3 linked regions of the Homo sapiens genome follow. The protein of the gene in region 2 interacts with the protein of the main gene of each other region in a pairwise test. Each region holds a gene or a part of one and is shown on either strand. Other genes may lie near its edges.

Region 1 (7,729 bases), about 15 Mb from region 2:
TGAAGGGATCTTGAAATCTCCGTTGCAACTTCTTCAGCAGAAAGGTAAAAGTCATCCAGGACAGAGGCTGCAAACTGAAGTGCAAGTCAAAACAGAAAGTGGAACCTGCATGATATTTGGCATGTTTGTTTTCAAGTAAATTGTCAACTGAGCTGATTATAATCGCACCCAGAGAATCATTCTGGTATTTTTACAAAGCAATGGTACTGTAAACTCACAATATTCTCTGAACAGAACAGAATTCCTTGGGGCTTGATGCCTGAGTCATTCCTCTTCCCAAAGATCCCATAGGATATGGGGACTCCAGCAGCTCCCCTGGAGTCCTGAAGCTGGCTGACTTCAGCTGGTCCCAGTGCTGTTTGGGGCTATGTTTAGCACTTGGCCTCTTCCTCCTATTCTTCTGCTTCCCTTCCTGCTCCTTTCCAAAGCCCATCATGTTTTCTTCCTCCAACTCCTCATCATCTGTTCATCCAGCCCTTCCCTCATAAAATGCTAGAATGTAAAGCTGGAAGGGTAAACTCACACTTTCATTTTACAGATAGTTGAGACTGAGCACCAAAGAGGAGGGTCACTTGCCCAGAGTCTCACAGTGACAGAGTCCAAATGAGAACTCAGGTCTCAATGCTCCTCTCTCCATCAACTTGTGTTTCATCTTCACCATTTTACTACATCCAGGTACCACCCATGCTATTAATTACTTATTGTTAATTTCAATACTTTTATTTTATTTTTTGAGACAGAGTCTCGCTCCATCGCCCAGGCTGGAGTGCAGTGGCATCATCTCAGCCCACTGCAACCTCTATCTCCTGGGTTCAAGCAATTCTCCAGCCTCAGCCTCCTGAGTAGCTGGGATTACAGGTGTGTACCACTATGCCCGGCTAATTTATGTATTTTTAGTAGAGACAGGGTTTCACCATGTTGGCCAGGCTGATCTAAAACTCCTGACCTCAAGTGATCTGACTGCCTTGGCCTCCCAAAGTGCTGGGATTACAGGCACAAGCCACCGTGCCTGGCCGGTACATTTACTTTAAATGTAAACCTCACATCATTGCCAAGAGACAAGAACCAGTATCACTTCTCATAAATAAAAGGTAACCCTAAAAATAAATTCTGGGGAAACAAAACAAGGTTATTAAAACCCAGCTGGTTGTTTGCTTGTTGAAGGCCCTCCCAGGCCTGCTCTTGATTTTTGTTTTAAAAGAAGGATTAGCAAGCCTTTGAGAGGCATTAACTCTATTCTAGCTCCAGAGACTTCCTCTTTGAAAAAATGAGAAGGATTTTTAAAAGAACTGTAAAGTAAGTGTATGTTTAATTCTATGTCCATGTGCTCCTTAAAACTGTCCCACAGTTTGGGAACAGCCAGTGAAAAGAACACAAGTTTGAGAGTCAGACAGCTTTAGACTCCAGTCCTGACTTTGTAACACTTACTAGTTATTTTGCTTCTCTTAGCCTCAGTTTCTCTATCTCTAAAATGGGAGTAATAATGCCTGCCCTGCAGGTTGGATTACGAAGATAAGAAAGAATACATGTATATGGCCTAGCACAGTGTCAGGAACATAGTAGGTGCTCATTAAATGGCAATTTTAATCATCATTCATTTGTTTCTGCTTGCATGATATATGGCAAGCAGCCCGGCTACCTGGCTGGCTGTCCAGAATCCTACCTAACTGGTGGCTCTCATTCAACCTGGGTATCTCAGCAAATTACTTACAGAAATGTGTCTTACCCAAAATGGGAAAGGAAGTAGAAAAGGCTACTGCCCCCCACCAGCTCATTGCAAGACACCATCCTGTGAACGTGGAGCTCCCACACTCCCAAAGATAGGAAAGTCCTTGATACCATCTTCAAACACATGAGAAATAAAACGCTCCCCTAAAAGTCTGTCAATCTCCAGTTCTCACTCCCCATAGTTCTGGTCCTTCTGCCACAAAACAGCTCAGGACCAGAGCTTGGAGACTCTCACTATCTGAGAGGCAGGCTCGGGAATCATGCAGATGTAGATTCACAACCAGGTTCTTCCATTAGCTAGCTATGAGACCTTTGGCAAGACAATCCCCCTTTCTGAGCCTCAATTTGCCCATCTGTATAATGGGGGAGTTGTGAGAAATCAGACAAAGAAAACAGGCAGTGTTTGGCTCAGAGCCTGACACACAAGAAGCCCTCAATAGATAGCTTCTGACATTGTTGTCACAGCCCAGCCTCTACCTGGAGCCAAAGTTGGGAGTTATGAGGGCAAACTCTGCTCTTGAGAAGCCTGGATCACACCCTTCACCCCACCTCCTCTGGCTCTTTCTCCACTCCTACCACAAGGGCCCCCCTTTACCTCTTTCCAGCTCCGCCCTCCCCCTGCCTCCCTGTTCCCTAAGAGCCATTGCTTCAGGTGAAAGTGAAAGCTGTGGGACCAAAGCAGCCTCCCCACTCCCTCTCTTCCCTTGCTGCTTCCCTTGCTTTCCTTGATACCATGGGTCATTCCTGCCCAGGCTTCAGGCAGGAATCTACAGCCCTCTAAAGTAGGGGGAGGCCAGAGGGGCTGGGATGAAGGAGCCAGGTACTTGGGGGATTCCCAGCCTCCAGAATGAGGAACTACAAAAATACATTTAAACAAAAAGTGAGTCAAGTGTAGGCTTCTGAAAATCCCGGAGATATGCTTGGTTGGCTCTGAGCCCCTCTGGTGCCTGGAGAAACCCCTGGTTTCTCCAGCCCTCTGATCACCAGCCCTGTCAGAGCCAACCAGAACTCTGGTCTCCTAACCCTTTATTGTGTCCCATAAACTGTTCATCTCCCCAGGGGTCTCCTATGTCATCTTAAATTCAGGAGAAAAAGGCAAAGCCCTGGGGATTCCTCCTAGGTTGGAACACCCAAGATACGGTTCGGGGTGGAAGGCGATGTTAAAAGCTCCTTGCCTTCTCACAAAAGTACCTGGGCCTCTGCACCCATCTCTTGTTCCCACAAGATGCCCTGGAAGAAGGCAGCCCCAGCTGGCAAGGAGATGATAACTACTTACAGAGGCTGGCATCTGTCCACAATAAGAAGGGGACAGGAAACGGGCCAGACCCGCCCCTTCCCTTGGTCCGCCTCACTTCCCGCCCTCTGAACCCCCTACCAGTCTCTGTGTGGCCAGCCTCTGAGGCTCCCTAAACCCGTCCAGGCCGTCTAGGCACGCTTGGGCAGCCAGTGCCTTCCCTGAGCGGCCCCTGTAGGCCGCTCCCGGGACCCCAGCCCGGGAGAAGAGAGAGGCAGCCCACCCCATTCAGCCAGGAGCGGGGGCACCTTGCCCAGCTCCCACCCACCCTCCTGCCCCCACAAAAATCAGCCAGGAAGGCCTCTTCCCCGAAGTCTTCCTTCCCTTTCCTTCTCATTCCCCACTCCCAACTCCCGTCTGGTCGGGGCAAAAACAACTCACAGCGGTCAGCAAGCAGCCCCAGAGGACGCACTGCAGAGGCAGACGAACCATAGCGAGGTGAGACCAGGCGGCAGGACCACTGGGCGCCCGAGCGAGGCCTCTGCTGACTCCCCTGCCCCAGCCTTGGCCCCGCCCAGGAAAGGGGCGGGGTCTTCAAAGACCAATCGCGGTCCACCTATCGGGGGGGCGGAGCCCCCAGCAATTCACCGCGCAGGAGTTTCCCCAGAACATTCCCACAAGTCTAATTCCCCCGGGAGTTTAGGGACGCATCTTGCTGTGTACGGGAGGAGGCATGGTCCCAGAGACAGCTCTTCTTCTTTGCCCCCAGGTCCCACAAAGGCCAAGCCGAGGCGGGCTAGGAGCTAGCCTGCTTCCTGCGACCGGAGAGAGATCCCATGGGTGCTGGGGCCTGCCACAGGGACCCTCACGGTTTTCCCCTCCCTGCCCCGCTCTCCGCTGCCTCTAGGTATCCTGGCAGAACCGAAAGAGGCTCCACTGCGGAGAGGCCTGAGGAAGTTCCCCCCACACCACCACGCAGAAAACGGGAAGGCCACAGCTGGGGTATGGGGAGGCGTTTCAAGGAAGAGTTTCCCAACTCAGAATTTCGCTCTCTTTCAAAGGAAATTCCCTCGTGTGGGCGCGTCGTCTCAACTTCCCATCCATTCATCCATGCATCCATGCGTCCTCACCTCATTCCATTCCATCCCACCTCCCACCCAGCACCTGGAGACAGGCATTTATTAAGAGTGGGGCCGGGCGCGGTGGCTCACGCCTGTAATCCAGCACTTTAGGAGGCCGAGGCGGGCAGATCACTTGAGGTCAGGAGTTCGAGACCAACCTGGCCAACATAGTGAAACTCCGTCTCTACTAAAAATACAAAAATTAACCGGATGTAGTGGCGTTCGCCTGTAATCCCAGCTACTCGGGAGGCTGAGGCAGGAGAATCGCTTGAACCGCAGAGGCAGAGATTGCAATGAGCCGAGATCGTGCCACTGCACTCCAGCCTCGAAGGCAGAGCAAGACTCAGTCTCAAAAAAAAAAAAAATAAATAATAAATAAAAATAAAAATAAAGGTGGGGGCCAGGCGCGGTGGCTTACGCCTGTAATCTAACACTTTGGAAGGCCAAAAAGGGAGATTGCTTGAGGCCAGGAGTTCAAGACCAGCCTGGCAACATGGCAAGACCCCCATCTCTACAAAATAAAGAAATTTTTAAGTTAGCCAGGCATGGTGGCAAACACCTGTAGTCCCAGCTACTCAGGAGGCTGAGGCAGGAGGATCGCTTGAGCTCAAGAAGTCAAGGTTGCAGTGAGCCATGATTGCAATGATTACATCACTGCACTTCAGCCTGGGCGACAGTGCAAAACTCCATCTCAAAAAAAAAAAAAGAGTGGGCCAGCCTTTTGTGGCATCATAAAACACTTTAAGTATGTTAGGAAACTCGGGACCCTCTCATTTTGCAGAAACACACACACTTGTGCCTACATTTCCTGGGTTCATGAACTCTGAAGACGTGCTTTTGTTTTTTTGTTTTTTGTTTCGTTTTGTTTTTTGGGTGTTTGTTTGGTTTTTGGTTTTTGGGTTTTTTTTGACAGAGTCTCATTCTGTTGCCCAGGCTGGAGTGCAGTGGCATGATCTCGGCTCACTGCAACCTCTGCCTCCTGGGTTCAAGCAATTCTCCTGCCTCAGCCTCCCGAGTAGCTGGGATTACAGGCTGGCGCCACCACGCCCAGCTAATTTTTGTATTTTTAGTAGAGACGGGGTTTCTCCACGTTGGCCAGGCTGGTCTCAAACTCCTGACCTCAGGTGATCCGCCTGCCTTGGCCTCCCAAAGTGCTGAGATTACAGGCATGAGCCACCGCACCTGGCCCTCAAGATGTTCTTGAACCAGTGTTAACACTCTGCTTTGCAGCATGGAACACCTGGGTTCTGGTGCAGCCTCTGCCTCTGAAGGACTGTGTTCCCTTAGGCCTAAATTTTTCTCCAAGGAAAACTTAGGAGCTTGAACTAGACAACGGTTGAGGTGATGACCCTCCAAGCTCTCAATTTCTGGAAGAGGACAAGAGGCCAGACCTCACAGATCAGGGAGGATGGAAGAGGAGGACACTTCTAACCCCATTCTCATGGCTTCTGCTGTTAAGGGCACATTTGCAAGTCTTGTGGATTCTGCCTCTAGGATCCATCCCTTATTTTCTGTCACCTCTGCCACTGCCCTAATTCAGAGGGTGCCATCTTTCATCTGGACTGTCCCAACAGCCTCTCTCATTCCACAGGATTTATTGAGCACCTACTATGTGCCAGGCAACTCTTTACACTGCTGCGATTCTCTTGATAAACTCCAGATCTGATCGACTGGGACACTTTCCTGCATAAAAGCCTCTTTGGGTTTCCCTGCACCCTCAGGATGATCCAAATTTCTTATCCTGGCAAAGCACACCCTTCCTCACTCAGCCCCAACCTCTCTTTCTATGCTTACTTCCTGCCACGTCCTCCCATGCACACTGGCTTCAGCCTCTCCCCACTTCCCAGGCACACAATCTTTTTTCCTTACGGTTTATCTCATTGCTCTTGATGTTTCCTTCCTTTCCTTCTCCTTTCTTAAACAGTTTAAATGTTGCCTCCTCTTACACCTTCCCCAACTCCCTGAGGCAGAGGTAGGTACTCTATCCCACCCTGCCTCCTCCCCTGTGTTGCCACAGCATTTAGCATGCCAGCTCATAACTCCTTCTGCCTGGTCCCATTTGACTGTGAGCTCCCTGAGGGCAGGACTGGATCTATCCCAGTCCTAGGTACATAATAGGACACCAATATATGGGTGCTGAATGAATGAATAAATGAATGAGTGGGTTCAGCAACTTCTCATCCTAAGTACAGCCTCCAATCATGACAAAGAGTTGGTGGCAGGGGGTGCGAAGCTGGTAATCTCAACACAGACCTCAAGCTGCAGTGGCCTCTTGAGAATGGTGGTCAGATACCAAAAGGCCAGAAACTCTTGAAATCAGGGTCCAGGGAACTTCATTAAAGCCACCCAAACATGCCCAGGATGGAGAGAAGATTAAAATATCTTTTCCCTTTTTAACATACTTTGAAAAAAACAAGCACGGTTTTAAATCCTTTGAGAGAGGGGTGTTACTATAATGATTTCAGCCATTACTTATTCTTTATTTGCTTGATTCCAAAATTGGGCCTTTCACAAAACTGCCTGGGGAAGCAAGTACACAGAATTAAAACATTAATTATATTATATAAAACATATCATAGCAGCAATTAAAGCAGCTTAAATTAATGTGTGAAGGAATAAATGTTAGCCTTCGGGTTGCCCCATGGGGCGAAGACCAGATAAGATAAAGGGAAGATATTTTAGTATATACATATCCTGAGGAGGCATGTGCTGGTGGGCACAGGCCCAGAGAAGGCCTAGAATCTTGTTGAGCTGAGAAGAGTGTGCTGGAGGAGGAAAGCGAGAAGATGATTTAAGGGAAAGTGGCAATATTCGGAGGCCAATCAAAAAGGGAACAATGAAGGGTTCTGCAATAGGAATGGGGCAAAGGACATTCAAAAGAGTAGGGAGCCAGGATTTTGGAAACTCAGAGATGAAATGGCCTTTGTAGGGAGGTGGGTTCACAGTGCCAGGTGAATGGGTGAGGAGCATGCCTAGAGGTCCAGTGTCCACAGCGCTGCCAGAATCTGGCATCCAGAGTGTTCTGTCTAATATGCAAATCCAATTGTGTTGCTCCAAGGTTTAAAGTGGCTCTCCAGGGCCCTCACCCCTTAAGCTTGCAGAGCTGCAAGGCCATGGGCCTCCTGGTGTACATCTCTAAGCATCCTTCCTGCCTTCCCCTTCATGCTCCAGCCCCACTCCCCAGATGTCCCGTGCTGTCACCTCTGCCTGGAGAGCTCCCTTCCCACTGCCACTCTCCTTTCACCTGGCCAACTCTTTCTCACCCTTCAAGGTCCATCTCAGGCAACCCTCCTCTGGAAATCTCTCTCTAACAACCAACCTATCCCCCTGTGCTCTCTCAGAACCTGGGGCAGCTTTACCCAAGCAAGACTCTAGCCCGACCACACTGTATTTCAATTTTTCTGTTTACTTGTGGAGCCAGTGTATTGAGGCGATTCAACTCTGTGGGGTATAATGATGAAGATTTTCTCCCCTAATCTCTGCCTTCAGCCATGCTGTGTTGAATCTCCCTTTTCCATCCCTTAATGACATTTTGGGCAGATTGCATTACTTTTGGATCACTTTCTGTTGTTAAACCTCCATCCTTTAGACCTTTATTCTCAAACTCAATTTAAATCTCATTTTATCTTCTCTCTTACTCATTCAA
Region 2 (7,171 bases):
GTCTCAGTTCAGGATCTGTCCTGCAAAATGATTAGCCAGCAGTTTAATGTCCCATGGCCACAACTAGAGGGAATGGAAAGAGATGGAGCAAGGATCCACAGATGGCCTGATGCCAGCACTGTCCACCATGAGGAAGACTCACAAGAGGCATTGCCCTAGAGCCCCTGAGGGGCAGAACTGCAGGTGTGATCAAGGGAAAGTTATAACCTTTGGTGTGGGAGTAGAAAGAGGCCATGGGCCAAGAATGGGTTCTTGTGTTCATCATACTTGCCTCCTGGACTCCCCTAAAATACTCATAGATTGAGACCCACAGCATGCCTCAGCCTAGACTCTAAAGCCATTGCTATACAATACAATCACCACTAGCCACATTTAGCTATATAAATTTAAAGCTCGATTGAATCAAATTAAAACTTCGGGTCCGCATTCACACTGGGCACATTTCAAGTGCTCAGTAGCCACATGTGGCTAGTAGCTACCATATTGAACAACATAGACAGGAAATATTTCCATCATGGCAGAATGTTCTATTGGCAGTGCTGGTCTAGAAGAAAACAGGAATCAAGTAGATATAATGAATATTCTTTAATTCATGCCCTCTTGGACCAGCTATGGGTCAGCAGGCTAGGAGCTATTTGCAAGGTTTAGATTGTTACCACCTACTGGTCCATCCTGTTCTTCCTAACATGCACACCGGACACACACACACACACACACACACACACGCACACAACCTTTCTTCTTTATTTACTTGTTTCTAAATGTAACTAGGTGGAACTATCAGACAGAAACAGGGTGTTGCCAAGAATGATTTAATAGAACTGCAGGATCCCATGATGTTGAGACTCAAGGTTGGAAGAGAGGTGTCAGACTGCAGAAGTTGATTCCAGGCTTGTATTTGTGTCTGTTAATTTTGGTTTTACAGGTACATACTTGGGATCCACACAGCACTTAGCCTCAGTTTTGCATAATATATAGTATACTTCACTTTCTTTACATGTTGTTCTGCACCTGCCTGACTTGCCCCAACATTTCATGACTGAAAACAAAAGGGAAGAAGAGAATAGAGTCAGTTTTGAAAGAAAGCAGAAAGGTGTGAAAGGAAGAGGCTAAAGCCCAGTAGAGGAGTAGGAGGGAAATGAGGAGGTCTGTGGGGAAGAAGCTCTTACACAGGATCCCCTAAGTTTAAGGGAGATTATAGACCACTACGCTTTCTTCCTTCACTTGTGCCCCCTGTTAGAACCCCCAGAGTCCCCCCAACTCAGTGGCATAGGACCTACTGGATAGCTTCCCCTCCTTGGCCAGCTCCTTGGGAGGGGGAAGAGGACCCCTCTCCCAAGGGTTTTATCTCCCCCATATTATAATGTACCCAGGTGCCCAGTAGCAATTAGCCACCTTTTCTCATTGTTCTTTGGTACCCCCTCTGACCATATCAATGAAAGGTGACAGGAATATTAAATAAACTCATTTAACATCTGTAAGTCTTCTAGGGCACCTTTAAAACTCCCAAGAATATCATACTGCCTTCTTCACAACATCCTGGGACTTTTCTCTGGCCCCAACCAGTCAAGGGAATTAGGAACAGCTATTCCAGGGAACCTACAACCTAAGGTAACCCAGATGATTTGAGGTTGCATTAAAAAGTGGAATCAGAATCCTCAAACAATCAGAAATTTGAGAACCATTTTCCTAGAGGCAACAATGCATCAAAATTCAAATCCTTTCAATGAATGTTTTTGAAAAAGTCCCCATTTTCTCTATACTCCATACCCAAGTCTCTCTCTTTACACCCTATCCCATCCTCAGGTCATCACGTTCAGCTTTTCCAGAGCTAACCAGAGATAAGGTTGGAATGGTCAAGTACTGGGCACTGGGAAGACCATTTGGTACCAGAGAACTCAAACTTCCCCATAACTAGAGAGACTACCTAAAGGCCTCAATGAGCTCTACCAGGCCATTCTCCCAGCCCAACCTGTCAGAGTCCCCAGAGTTCTCTGAACATGCATCAGGTTTCCTGACTCCCATCCCCTTCTGGAGATCCTGTTTACCTGGGGTGACCTGGGCCAGGAGCAGAGTAACAGTCAAAAGCAGAAGAAGGAGCTTCATGAATGATGAATGATCAGGGAGGGATAGGAGGCTTCTCAACTGGTAAAACAGACAGAGGACTCCATTCTGGGCAGTCCAGACTGGTATTTATTGCCTTGAGGAGCATGGCAGAGCCAAGATCAGTGAACCAGAACGGGAACAGTCATTTGAGATCAGACAGGCAGGCAAGGAAGGTATCAACCACACTGCCTGAGGAGGCTGGGAGAGGGGGAAGGGACGTTAACAAAGAGAAGATACGGCCTTGCCTCTGAAGAATTTTATAATACAGCTGGAGAACCAAGAAGGGGAAAAATATTTTCATCTCTAATTTGTTTTTCATTAATGAGAAAAAAAGAGAGAGAAAAAGAGATAAGACAGAAAAGGAGTGATACTTCTCTGCGCCTTGGGTTCTTCCCAGCAACAAGGACATCTTAGGATGTCCCATATGTTGATGATTCATTATAATACCAAATGAAGGGCAGAGCAGGGGAAAATACCTTAATAGCTCCATGGCCATCACCACTGGAAACCAGAATGTCAGTATTCATGGAGTGGAATGAGCAGGAAAGCCATAGCCCTTACTTTTAACAGTACATATTTAATAGGAACAAGTAGCACCCTCATAGGTAGCAAAAGAAAAGCCATTTATTATTGTTGTGGTCTTTTTTTTATTATTACTTATTTTTTTGAGACAGTCTTGTTCTGTCACCCAGGCTGGAGTGCAGTGGCACAATCATAGCTCACTGGAACCTCGAATTCCTGGTCTCAAGCAATTCTCCTGCTTTGGCCTCCCAAAGTGCTAGGATTAAAGGCATGAGCCATCATGCCCAGCTTGGTCTTTCTTATAAGAAATGGTAGATTGCCCCAGCAACTTGGGAGGCCGAGGCAGGCGGATCACAAGTTCAGGAGATCGAGACCATCCTGGCTAACTCAGTGAAACCCCGTCTCTACAAAAAAAAATACAAAAAATTAGCCGGGCGTGGTGGCTGGCCACTGTAGTCCCAGCTATTCAGGAGGCTGAAGCAGGAGACTAGCTTGAATCCGGGAGGCGGAGGTTGCAGTGAGCCGAGATTGTGCCACTGCACTCCAGCCTGGGCAACAGAGCGAGACTCTGTCTCAAAAAAGAAAGAAAGAAATGGTAGATTGTAATCTTGGCCCTACTTCTTCATCCCTACTTGAATTCACACATTTGCCAAGGTCTCATCCTAGGAGAACTCTATTTCATTTTCCCTTCACTTTGGCCTTGGCATGTGATTTGCTTTGGCTAGTGATATGTGGGCAGAAGTGACGGTGTGCCGGTTGTAAGCCTAGGTTTTAAGAGATGATGAATATTTTCATTTGCCCTTCTGTGTCTCTGCCATCACTATGAGAAGAACATGCCCCAGTGGTCCAAGGAGGATGAGAGATACGTGGGGCACAGCTACTCCAGGCGACTCACAGATCTACAGTGAGAAACAGAGCTGCCCCAGGCATTCCAGCCTCAAGCAGGGCAATCTAGCCAAATATAAAGGATTGATGTTTTAAGCCACTGAGTTTTGGAGTGGAACATTACATAGTAATGGCTAACTTATACACAAGGCCAGCAGATAGATCAGGAAAGAGCCAAGTGCTTTTTAGGACAATAATGGTAAGGTCTATCTTTCTTTTCTTTTTCTTTTTTCTTTAAGACAGAGTCTTGCTCTGTTGCCCAGGCTGGAGTGCCGTGGCACCATCTCAGCTCATTGCAACCTCTGCCCCCCGGGTTCAAGCAGTTCTCCTGCCTTAGCCCCCCGAGTAGCTAGGACTACAGGCACGCGCCACCACACCCAGCTAATTTTTGTATTTTTGGTAGAGACGAGGTTTCACCATGTTGGCCATGGCTTGTCTCAAACTCCTGACCTCAGGTGATCCACCCGCCTCAGCCTCCCAAAGTGCTGGGATTACAGGCGTGAGCCACTGCACCTGGCCTAGGTCTATCATTTCAAAATGGACAGAAATAAAGACATACTAATAAGAGGAATATCTTCTTTCTAACATGGAAGAAAACAACAAGCCAGGAGCAGAGGCTCCTGCCTGTAATCCCCACAATTCGGGAGGCTAAGGCAGGAGGATTGCTTGAAGCCAAGAGTTTGAAACCAGCCTCAGCAACATAACGAGACTCCATCTCTACACACACACAAAAAAAGTTTTAAATAGCCGGGCATGGTGGGGCAAAGCTGTAGTCCTACCTACTAGGGAGGCTGAGGCAGGAAAATCATTTGAGCCCAGGAGGTCGAAGCTACAATGAGCTAAAATTGCACCACTGCACTCCAGCCAGCTCAACAGAGACCCTGTCTCCAAAAACAAAAAAAAGACAAGATAAATTTTCTTGTTGTCTGAAGAAAAATTAATGCTCCGGAGGTCACTTTTTCTATAAAGCCCAGATGGTAAATACTTTAGGATTTGCCAGCCACAACTATCACAACTACTCAACTCTACAGCTATAGGACAAAATTACCCACAGACAATATATAAGCAAATGAGTGTGGCTGTATTCCAATAAAACTTATTTATAGACACTCAAGTTTAAATTTTGTATAATTTTCACATCTCTAAATGAAATTTGATTGTTTTCAACGATTTAAAAATGTACTGGCTGGGCATGGTGGCTCACGCCTGTAATTCCAGCACTTTGGGAGACTGAGACAGGTGAATCACCTGAAGCCAGGAATTCGAGACCAGCCTGGCCAACATGGTGAAACCTCGTCTCTACTAAAAATACAAAAATTAGCCATGTGGGGTGGTGAGCAACTGTAACCCCAGCTACTCGGGAGGTTGAGGCAGGAGAATTGTTTGAACCTGGGAGGCAGAGGTTGCAGTGAGCCGAGATGGTGCCATTGCACTCCAGCCTGAACAACAGGAGTGAAACTACATCTCAAAAAAAAAAAATGTACCAAGGCAAACAGATCACTTGAGGCCAGGAGTTTGAGACCAGCCTGGATGACATAGCAAGGTCCCTTCTCTATTTTAAAAAAACTTGTTAAAAAAATAAAATAAACAAAATTATTGCTGATTTTCTTGGTATCTCCACTTTGGAAAAACAGTTTAACAGTTTCTTATAAAGTTAAACATAAACTTATCATACAACCAAACAACTCCTCTCTTTGGTATTTATCAAAGATAAATGAAGACATATGTCCACGTCAAAACTTGAATTGTCATAGTAACTTTATTCACCATAAGTGAAAACAACCCAAAAGTCCATTAATTAGTAAACAGATAAATTCTGATATCTCCATGTAATAGAATACTATTCAGCAACAAAGAATTAACCACTGCTATGCAACATACGGATGAACCTAAAGAGCAAGCTGGGTGTGGTGGTTCACGCCTGTAATCCCAGCACTTTGAGAGGCCAAGGTGGGTGGATCATCTGAGGTCAGGAGTTCGAGACTAGCCTGGCCAACATGGTGAAACCCTGTCTCTACCAAAAATAACAAAATTAGCCAGACATGGTGGCGGGTGCCTGTAATCCCAGCTACTTGGTAGGCTGAGGCAGGAGAATTGCTTGAACCCGGGAGGCGGAGGTTGCAGTGAACCTGAGCCAAGATCATGCCACTGCACTCCAGCCTGGACAACAAGAGCGAAACACTGTCTCAAAAGAATAATAATAAAAATAATAATAAACATTTTTTAAAAGCATTAGCCTGAGTGGAAAAATCCAGACCAAAGAAGAACATACTGAACAAGCTTATTCACATGAAACTCTAGAAAACACAAACCTAATCTACAGTGACAAAAAACAGATCAGTGGTTGCCTGGGGCTGATGGGAGGAAGTGGGCATTGACTGAGATGGGGCATGAGGGAACTTTCAGAGTGATGAAAATGTTCTATATGCAGATGTCAAAATTCATCAAAATTTACACATTATGTTTTATATAAATTATACCTCAAAAAAGTTGACTTTAAAAAAAACCTGTGCAAATAGTTTTTAAAATAAGCAACAGAATCCGATAAATAACATAAAACCACTTAAAATATATACACATTTAATGTGGTACACATATACCATGGAATACTATGCAGCCATCAAAAAGAAGGAAATCACATCCTTTGCAGCAACATGGATGCAGCTGGAGGTCATTATCCTAAGCCAACTGATGCAGAAACAGAAAACCAAATACCACATGTCCTCACTTACAAGTTGGAGACAAACCTTGGGTACATGTGAACATAAAGAGGGGAACCATAGACACTGGGGACTACTAGAGTCAGGAGAGAGGGAGGGAGGCAAGGGCTGAAAAACTACCTATTATATACTATGCTCACTACCTGGGTGACAAGATACATCATAGGAGTTAAACATCATAGGAGTTGCCTATGTGAGAGATGGATAGGAGTTGATTATGGGGATAAAAGTTAATAAATCAGTAAAATAAAATAAGAGAAGGGCTTTGTATAAGGCCAATGACAATAAATCTGCCATAAATACATAACCCTCTGCAACAGAGGACTAAAATAAAGTGCTATATTGACAAGGGGCTTACTTCTAAAGATCATTAGTAAGGTATCAGCCCCGTGGACTGGAACCCATTTCCTCTCCTTCCAGAAGGGACTGCAGAGAGGAAACCTGAGATGCCATTCAAGCAAACGGCACAACTTCCTCCACTCTTGAGAAAGGGGATTGTTTCTGGTTAGAAGGGTAGGATACTGGGCTGAGAGCCTTGAAAAATGAGAGAGAGAGAGAGAGAGAGAGAGAGAGAGAAAGAGAGCAACTCATGGGAGCACCATCCTTGCAGAAGTCTTAGTCTAGAAGGTACTTTCTTTATGCATCCAAGGAACCCCCAGTGGCACAGAGTTTCATCTACACTGAATGGTTTTGAGATCTACTTCCCTTCTTTAAAGAACTCCATCATAGCCCTGCAAGTTTGCTCTTGTGAACACTGATAAGCAGAATAAGGCTGCCTAATAAAGGGATGACCTGAATCCATTATGTGCATGATTTATCGGAATTAATAGTAGTTTTCAGCAGTAGAGAAGACTCTCATAAAAGACCCTTTTCCTATCTGTCACAAAAAACTGTGAAACAAAATGCCTTGATTGCTTCGTGAGCTAAAAAGGACTTCC
Region 3 (8,236 bases), on a different chromosome or scaffold from region 2:
ACTGCAGCAGACTTGCCTCAGAAAGGCTGACTGTTAGAAGATAAACAAACAAACAGAAAGTAACAACAACAACATCTACAAAAAAGACTCCACAAAAACCCCATTCAAAGGTCATCAGTCTCAAAGATCAAAGGTGGATAAATCCACGAAGATGAGGAAAAAACAATGAAAAAACGGTGAAAATTCCAAAAGCCAGAGTGCCTCTTCTCCTCCAAATGATCGCAACAGTTCTCCTGTGAGGGCACAGAACAAGGCTGAAGCTGAGATGGATAAACTGACAGAAGTAGGCTTCAGAAAGTTGGTAATAACGAATTTCGCTGAGCTAAAGCATTATGTTCTAACCCAATGCAAAGAAGCTAAGAAGCATGATAAAAGATTACAGGAGCTGTTAACCAGAATAACCAGTTCAGAGAGGAACATAAATGACCTGATGGAGCTGAAAAACACAGCACGAGAACATCATGTTGCAAACACAAGTATCAATAGCTGAATTGACCAAGCAGAAGAGAAAATATCAGAGCTTGAAGACTCTCTTGCTGAAATAAGGCAGACAGACAAGATTAGAGAAAAAAGAATGAAAAGAAATGAACAAAACTTCCAAGAACTATGGGACTATGTAAAAAGACCGAACCTACCACTGACTGGAGTACCTGAAAGAGACAGGGAGGATGGAACCAAGTTGGAAAACACACTTCAGGATATAATCCAGGAGAACTTCCCCAACCTAGCAAGACAGGCCAATATTCAAATTCAGGAAATCCAGAGAACCCCAATAAGATACTTCATGAGTAGATCAACCCCAAGACACATACTCCAAGGTCGAAATGGAAGAAAAAATATTAAGGGCAGCCAGGGAGAAAGGTCAGGTCACTGACAAAGGGAAGTCCATCAGATTATGAATTTTGAGTGCTACAATATGCCAATGTAGGTTATTAATTGTAATAAATGTACTGCTGGTGAAGAATGTTGATGTTAGAGACTGCTATGGTTTGAATGTGTCTCCAAAGTTCATGTGTTAGATACTTAATCCCCAATGCAATAGTGTTGAGAGGCAGGTCCTTTAAGAGGTAATCAGGTCATAATGTCCTTATAATGGGAGTGGGTTTACTATCACGAAAGTGGATTTGTTATAAAAGCAAGTTTGGTGCCTCTTGCTCTCTCTCTTTCTTATGCATGTGCTCTCTTGCCCTTCCAAATTTTGCCATGGGATGATGGAGCAAGATGTGTTTCTCAGTCTTGAACTTTCCAGCCTCCAGAACTATGAGCCAATAGATTTTGTTCATTATAAATTACCCAGTCTTGGGTATTCTGTAATAGCAGCACAAAACAGACTAAGACAGAGTCTATATATGTGTGGCAACAAGGAGAAAATGAAAAAAAAAACTACCTTTCTCACAATTTTGCTGTGATCCCAAAATGGCTCTAAAAATATGGTCTTTAAACAAAACAAAAAAGAGCAAAAGGAAAAAGGATATACTAGCAGCAGATCTTACAAGAATATCCAAATTTAAAGAGCCATCAAACCAGTGGTGAATTTAAATTTCCCTCCTCTAGTATCACTGCCCCGAACTTAATACAGCCAGAAACATGGAATTGAGCCTCTGTCAGCATAAAGAGAGGGCTCCAGGAGAAGCACTAGAGGTATGGTCTGAGGAACAGAAAAGCAAACTCCTATCTCAAATAGAGTGTGAAAATACCACGTTTATTTTTTCTCCCCCTCTTGTCTACATTCTCATGTGCCTCAAACCTCAGGCAATCTGATGATGGTAGGGGAAACTACAGCAACATGCAATAGCCAAAACCTTGAGAAAGGTTAATCCTCGGCCGGGCGCGGTGGCTCACGCCTGTAATCCCAGCAGTTTGGGAGGCCGAGGCGGGCGGATCACAAAGTCAGGAGATCGAGACCATCCTGGCTAACACGGTGAAACCCCGTCTCTACTAAAAATACAAAAAAGTAGCCGGGCGTGGTGGCGGGCGCCTGTAGTCCCAGCTACTCAGGAGGCTGAGGCAGAATGGCGTGAACCCAGGAGGCGGGGCTTGCAGTGAGCCGAGATCGCGCCACTGCACTCCAGCCTGGGGGACAGAGTGAGACTCCACCTCAAAAAAAGAAAAGAAATCTAAAGTCAATCCTTTCCATTCAGTTGAGCTGTAGCTCCATGAGAGTGGGGCCAAACCTCTTGCTTTTTTTTTCTTCTTTCTCACTGTCCGTCTGCCACATGAGCTTAAAGATGCAGCTATAATTGCAGAAGTATATGGTTCATCAGAATAAAAGGAGGCCCGCATTTCTAGCTGGAGGATGGAAAGGAGAAGCCCCTGGGAACCTGAAAGTACGGGTCAGATGGTGAAGAGGAAGAAACTTTAGAAAGAGACCCATGAACATTATTCATAAACTCCTGGATTCACCTGCCCCTCAACTTATGCATGCCTAGATATGGTTCTAATTGGCACACTAAAGATGCTAAGACCTGAACTAATGAGTAGAGCATTGCACAGTTCCCAATTTCACCCCTGGTTGATGCACATGTCTGAATAGCACTACAAAGGCTTTCAGAATGGAACTGACATTGGAACCAGATCCCACAGATTGTCTTCATCTCACCAGGGTGATTGCTTGCTAAAACAATAGTATCAATATACTCCAAAATTTAAATAAGATCCAGTCTAACTAAATATTTGTTCAAAATGTTCAAATTACAATCCAAAATTACACAGTATATGAAGAACCACGAAAATGTCAACTTCCATGGGGAAAGAAAACACAAGCCAAGGAGGACATGACAGAGATGTTGGAACTATCCGACAAACAGTTTAAAGCATTTGGTATAAAATGCTCAAAATACCCAATGAATGAAGAAATAAATGAAGTCATTTAACAACATTTAGAGTTCATCTTTTTCTGCCTCTGAATTACCTTTTCTCCAAATTGATTACCTTTTAAGTTGGGAGGAGAAAACTCCAAACTTTTAAGTCCTAAGTTATAAAACCTTGATATTCCCTAACTGTGGCAAAAGTCATTTTTTTCACTTACTAAAGCATCATATAAAGCTATATATATATATATTTCCAGTGCATCCAATGTAACATAATTCCATTAGAATGCCCTACTAAGTTTCTACTCAACCTTTGTTACTTTTTTGATTTGTAAATGTCCTTTACATACTATTTTCTACCTTTTCTCTCTTAAGAGCTTCCATGATAGGTTTTCTACCTATGTAATAATGATGGTATCTTGTATCTGAGTAACACTTTAGAGTTTGTATAGATTTTTTTTTAGTGAAATTAACTGTTATTTTCAATCCTAAACTTAACCTTATCTCATTGTCTTACATCTTTCTCTCATTGTTCCCTCTCCTTAGTTGTTAGAACTGGGAATATAAATATATGCATGTTTTACACAAATTATAAGCCAATTTATGGACTCCCACATTCCATCTCTTATCCTTGAAAACTTTTTACTAGATCAGCACCTTTCCTGTGTGAGCCCATCACTACCACTACCTTCCCATTCCAGTCCTCACACTTACTCTGTAGAGCCCAGCTTCTTACCTGGGTTTGCAGGCAATTCAGATGGTGTAATGTCTTTCTCCACATTGTTACTGTCATGCATTTTGCCTCCAGTTTCTATGAGTGATCTAAACCACAGTCTCTACGTTTTCAACCCCAAGAATGATTCAAAACAAAACAAAAAAAAAGCCCAACGACTAAAACGTGTAAGTGTGTAACCGCCCCAGTAACTCAAAATGTCAAGCCTTTAAGTTAAATATAGCTAGAGGAACAAATGAAGCATAAATTGTTTCAAAAATCAGCTCATCACAACAGAATAAACTGGTGTTTGTAAGAATTTTAAAAAGTTGAAGCTACTTCTCTAACAGTATTTTGGTTACGAAAGAAACTAATGTTTGATAACTTAAAATTTCTTTGACTATTAAAAATTATAATTGTATTTTGTGCGGTACAAAGCAATATTATGATAGAAAATAAGAATTTATTGAAAGGAAGGAGTTGGCTCTCAGAGGAAATGAATGTTAGGTAAGTAAAGACAACAGCAATTTTAATCTCAAATTAAAATTCATTCCCAAGAGTTTACGCTCATTCAAAAAATATCTTGTTTTCAATTTCTTCAAGATATTTTGGGAATTTGCTGCTATGGCTGCTACAACAACTTTTCAAAAATGGGCTTGAACGGTGTGCAGCTTCTGTGCTCCCTCTGGCATGATCCAGGAGCACAGAGGCTCTTTAGCAGCAAGAGCTTCTTGTCAGATGTGTTGATTTCTTGTATATAAATGCCAGTAAGGGCACCTTTTACTAAAATATAATTTATAGTAATGTGCACAAATCATAAGCATACAACTAAACACATTCATTAAAAATATAACATGTAACAAGTGCCTAGATGAAGTATATCTTAAAACCACGTAAAACAATACCAACACGCTATGTGCCCTACTCATGTCCTGCAACGCTCATTACCCCAAATACAATCTCTATCTTAACTCTGACAACATATTTTCCCTGCTTTTGAATTCTATACAGTAGCCCCCCTTACCTGTAAGAAATAAGTTCCAGATTGGACAGCTATTGCCTTTATCAAATAGAAATGAAGTTGCATTAGGACTGAGTTCCAGTTTCTGTAAGATTTTATATATCTTTTTCTTTACTATTTCATCATTTCTAGTTTGTCCTAGGACCTATGATAAAGCCTTCTAGTAATTCCATCTGAGAACCTGCTTTTTATCAAAGCTGCTTCTCTTTCTTGGAAGTTGAATTTGGTTTTGTCTCCTGAACAACATGTGATTGCCAAAAGTTCAAGTCTGTTTTTCACATAGTTCTTCCTAACCTCCTTTCCTGTGAAATTTAATAATTTGAAAATTGCTTGAGAGAAAAATTTTTCTCATTTCTTTGGCCCTCTCTCCTCTCTGGGGGTTTTGGTCCTTCAAGTGCTTTAGGAAGAGATTTTTCTCTCCCCCAAAAAAATGCCTGGTATCCACAGCCCTCTCCCCAGAATCTCAGCATCTGACCCACTGCCAAGATGCCCCTAAGAGAAGGGTGGCTCCTGGAATGCTGACTCACTTCTCTGTGGCCCCTTTCCAGAATCTTCGTTCTGCCTCCAGTTGCCTTGAACACTCTCTAATATCTTAATGAAATCCTTTTTCTTCAATTCTAACTCTTCTAGTTGTTCTCAGCATGAGTTTGATGTCTCTCCAGTTATATTATCATACACAGAAGTGGATATGAACTGTCAGGCTTATCCCTTTTATATCCTTTTATAATTTCATTGTTAGCTTAAAGGGGACAAAAGGTAAACCCTGATAAATTGAGATTTCCACACTTATCTTGGAATTTCCACACTAATCATCTTGGAATTTCCACACTAATCTTGGACCTTCCAGTGAAACTACTATTACTTTTACTGTTACTAGCCTGGCATGACAACATGCCAGGTTATTACTGCTTACTATGCTCCATACACATTAATATGAGATTTAAATATGTGTTCTTATTTAATTGGCATAACTAACTAATGAGGCTGATATTACCTTTATTTTTCAGATGATTTTGGGTGAGGGACTAACTAATATGTCTAAGTTCACAGTAAGCTATAGAACCCATGACTGACAGATCTGATATGAAAACTACTTTAAAGGTCAAATATCAAATGACATGGTATTTGTGAGTTAGTCACATCATTTATTCATATCAATCTCTTGGTTTCTACGTTGCTGTAAGTTTCTCCTTATGTGGAAACTAAACTGAAAGTAAGTTCATGAAGTCCTAAAGATGTACATAATCATTTACCCTTTAACAAATATTTTCAAACTTAACATCTTTCAGCCAGCACGCCAGGTGGACTTTGAGGGTAATGTCCCTTTCTTTAAGGAAGTTAATATGAAACTGAAAAATAAGTAGGTATACATGACTTATTGTAACAAGATGTGAATGGCAGTAGAATAATTTATTAGGAGAGCAGTTAATGAGGGCACTTAACCCAGAAGAAGTTTTCCCAAGAAAGTACCAATCAAATGAGCTGGAGTTAGTTAAATAAAGTGAGGCATTTAGGCCAGGCATGGTGGCTTATACCTGCAATCCCAGCACTTTGGGAGGCCAAGGCGGGTGGATCACCTGAGGTCAGGAGTTCAAGATCAGCCTGACCAACATGGTGAAATCCTATCTCTACTAAAAATACAAAAATTAGCTGGGCATGGTGGCTTGCACCTGTAGTCCTAGCTACTTGGGAGGCTGAGGCAGGAGAATTGCTTGAATCCTAGAGGCAGAGGTTGCAGTGAGCCAAGGTTGCACCACGTGGGCGACAGAATGAGACTCTGTCTCAAAATAAATAAATACATACATCCTGGCTAACACAGTGAAACCCTGTCTCTACTAAAAATACAAAAAATTAGCCGGGCACGGTGGCAGGCGCCTGTGGTCCCAGCTATTCGGGAGGCTGAGGCAGGAGAATGGCATGAACCCAGGAGGCAGAGCTTGCAGTGAGCCGAGATAGTGCCATTGCAGTCCAGCCTGGGCGAAACAGCGAGACTCCGTCTCAAAACAATAAATAAATAAATAAATTAATTAATTAAAAAAAATAAAGTGAGGCATTTGAGGTGGAGGAAGAAGTCTTCCAGTTGAAGAAAGTCTTCTAGTTTCTTTAGTTAGGCCCAGAGAGAAGAGAATATATCTCAGAGTTGGGAAAACACCTGAAATCTGAGAGAGCTGGAGCATAAATTATGAAAGGAGAAATGTGACAAAATAACTCTCCAATTATCACAAGAGCTTTATATTAAACTATGTGAATCTCATGACTTCTAAGCCATATCGTCGTGCTTACTTTCTTATGCAACCTTGTGTTAAATAGCTGATACCACACATAAGATACCACACATAAGATACAGTGATGTGCATTTACACTGTCCTTAGAGAATTCCAGTGTGAGGAAAAGAAGTACACATACAGAGTAATTTTAATTTCATTTAGAAAATAAATTTTTTTCAAAATATAATTTTTTAGTTGAGTCTATATTAGAAGGCAGAAATTAATGACTAATTGACCGGATATAAAAGGAAAGAAAAAAGCCCCTTCAAAGTGCCCATTACTCTTCAATAGATGTGAGTGTCTCAACTAAGTAGTATAAAAGCAATATATTATCAGATTTTGCTTCATTGGAATAGCTGACTGATAAAAAGTTACAAGAAAGAACAAAAGTTTATAAAAATTATTTATTCTCAATGACCTGTATCCCACTTTTCTTGGGTTTTTGTGTTTGTGACAGCATGATGGATGGTAATGATATTGAATAAGTGAGGGATATAAAAGGCAGTGTATTATGATGTAAAAGAACACAGCTGGCAGGGTGTGGTGGCTCACACCTATAATCCCAGCACTTTGGGAGGCCGAGGCAGGTGGATCACCTCAGGTCCGGAGTTGGAGACCAGCCTGGCCAACATGGCAAAACCTTGTCTCTACTAAAAATACAAAAACTAGCTGGGCGTGGTGGTGCGCACCTGTAATCCCAACTACTTGGGAGGCTGAGGCTGGAGAATCACTTGAACCCAGGAGGCGGAGGTTGCAGTGAGCCGAGATTGTGCCACTGCACTCCTGCCTGGGCAACAGTGAGAGTCCATCTCAAAAAATAAAAATAAAAAAAATAAAAAAAGAACACAGCCTTTGGGGCAAAACAAGCTCAATTCATATATGACTTTTGTAGCCTGATAGTTAATTTTAAATGTATGTGGAAAGCAGAATAATGACCCCCTAAAGACATTAATAAGCTAATTCCCAAAACCTTGAGGTAAGGATGTTATTTTACATGACAAAAGACATTTTGCACATATGGTTAAGGGTCTAAAGACAGAGGGATTATTTTGGATAATCCAGGTGGGCCTAATCTAATCACATGGGTCTTTATTAGGGGAAGGCAGGAATGTCACTGTCAGAGAGAGATTTGAAGGTGCTGTGCTGCTGGCTTTAAAGCTGTAGCAAGGGACCATAAGCTAAGGAATGCAGGTGGCCTCTGGAAGCTGAAAAAGGCAAGGAAACGGCTTCTTCCCTAGAGCCTCCAAAAGAAATGCAGCCCTATCAGTGGCACCCTGACTTTAGCCATTTTGAACCTCTCATTTCTAGACAGTAAAATAATAATTTGTGTTGTTTTTAATCCACTTGTCTTAGTTCATGTGCCTGTAACAAAATACCATAAAATGGGTAACTTATAAACAACAGAAATTTATTTCTCACAGTTCAG

Evidence for each region.
Region 1: the proteins of DEFB121 (region 2) and CD40 interact in binary tests that used the Homo sapiens proteins (3 or more experiments, as listed by UniProt).
Region 3: the proteins of DEFB121 (region 2) and CLEC2D interact in binary tests that used the Homo sapiens proteins (3 or more experiments, as listed by UniProt).

Annotation. Positions count from the first base shown.
Region 1 is NC_000020.11:46,114,069-46,121,797, reverse strand, and holds the start of CD40 (tumor necrosis factor receptor superfamily member 5 isoform 1 precursor), read right to left. Parts: upstream 3,485-7,729; 5' UTR 3,455-3,484; coding exon 3,404-3,454; intron 1-3,403.
Region 2 is NC_000020.11:31,404,047-31,411,217, forward strand, and holds DEFB121 (beta-defensin 121 isoform 1 precursor), read right to left. Parts: upstream 2,170-7,171; 5' UTR 2,107-2,169; coding exon 2,049-2,106; intron 1,040-2,048; coding exon 867-1,039; 3' UTR 799-866; downstream 1-798. UniProt on the Homo sapiens protein: Has antibacterial activity.
Region 3 is NC_000012.12:9,665,106-9,673,341, reverse strand, and holds the start of CLEC2D (C-type lectin domain family 2 member D), read right to left. Parts: upstream 3,630-8,236; 5' UTR 3,608-3,629; coding exon 3,547-3,607; intron 1-3,546. UniProt on the Homo sapiens protein: Receptor for KLRB1 that protects target cells against natural killer cell-mediated lysis. Inhibits osteoclast formation. Inhibits bone resorption. Modulates the release of interferon-gamma. Binds high molecular weight sulfated glycosaminoglycans.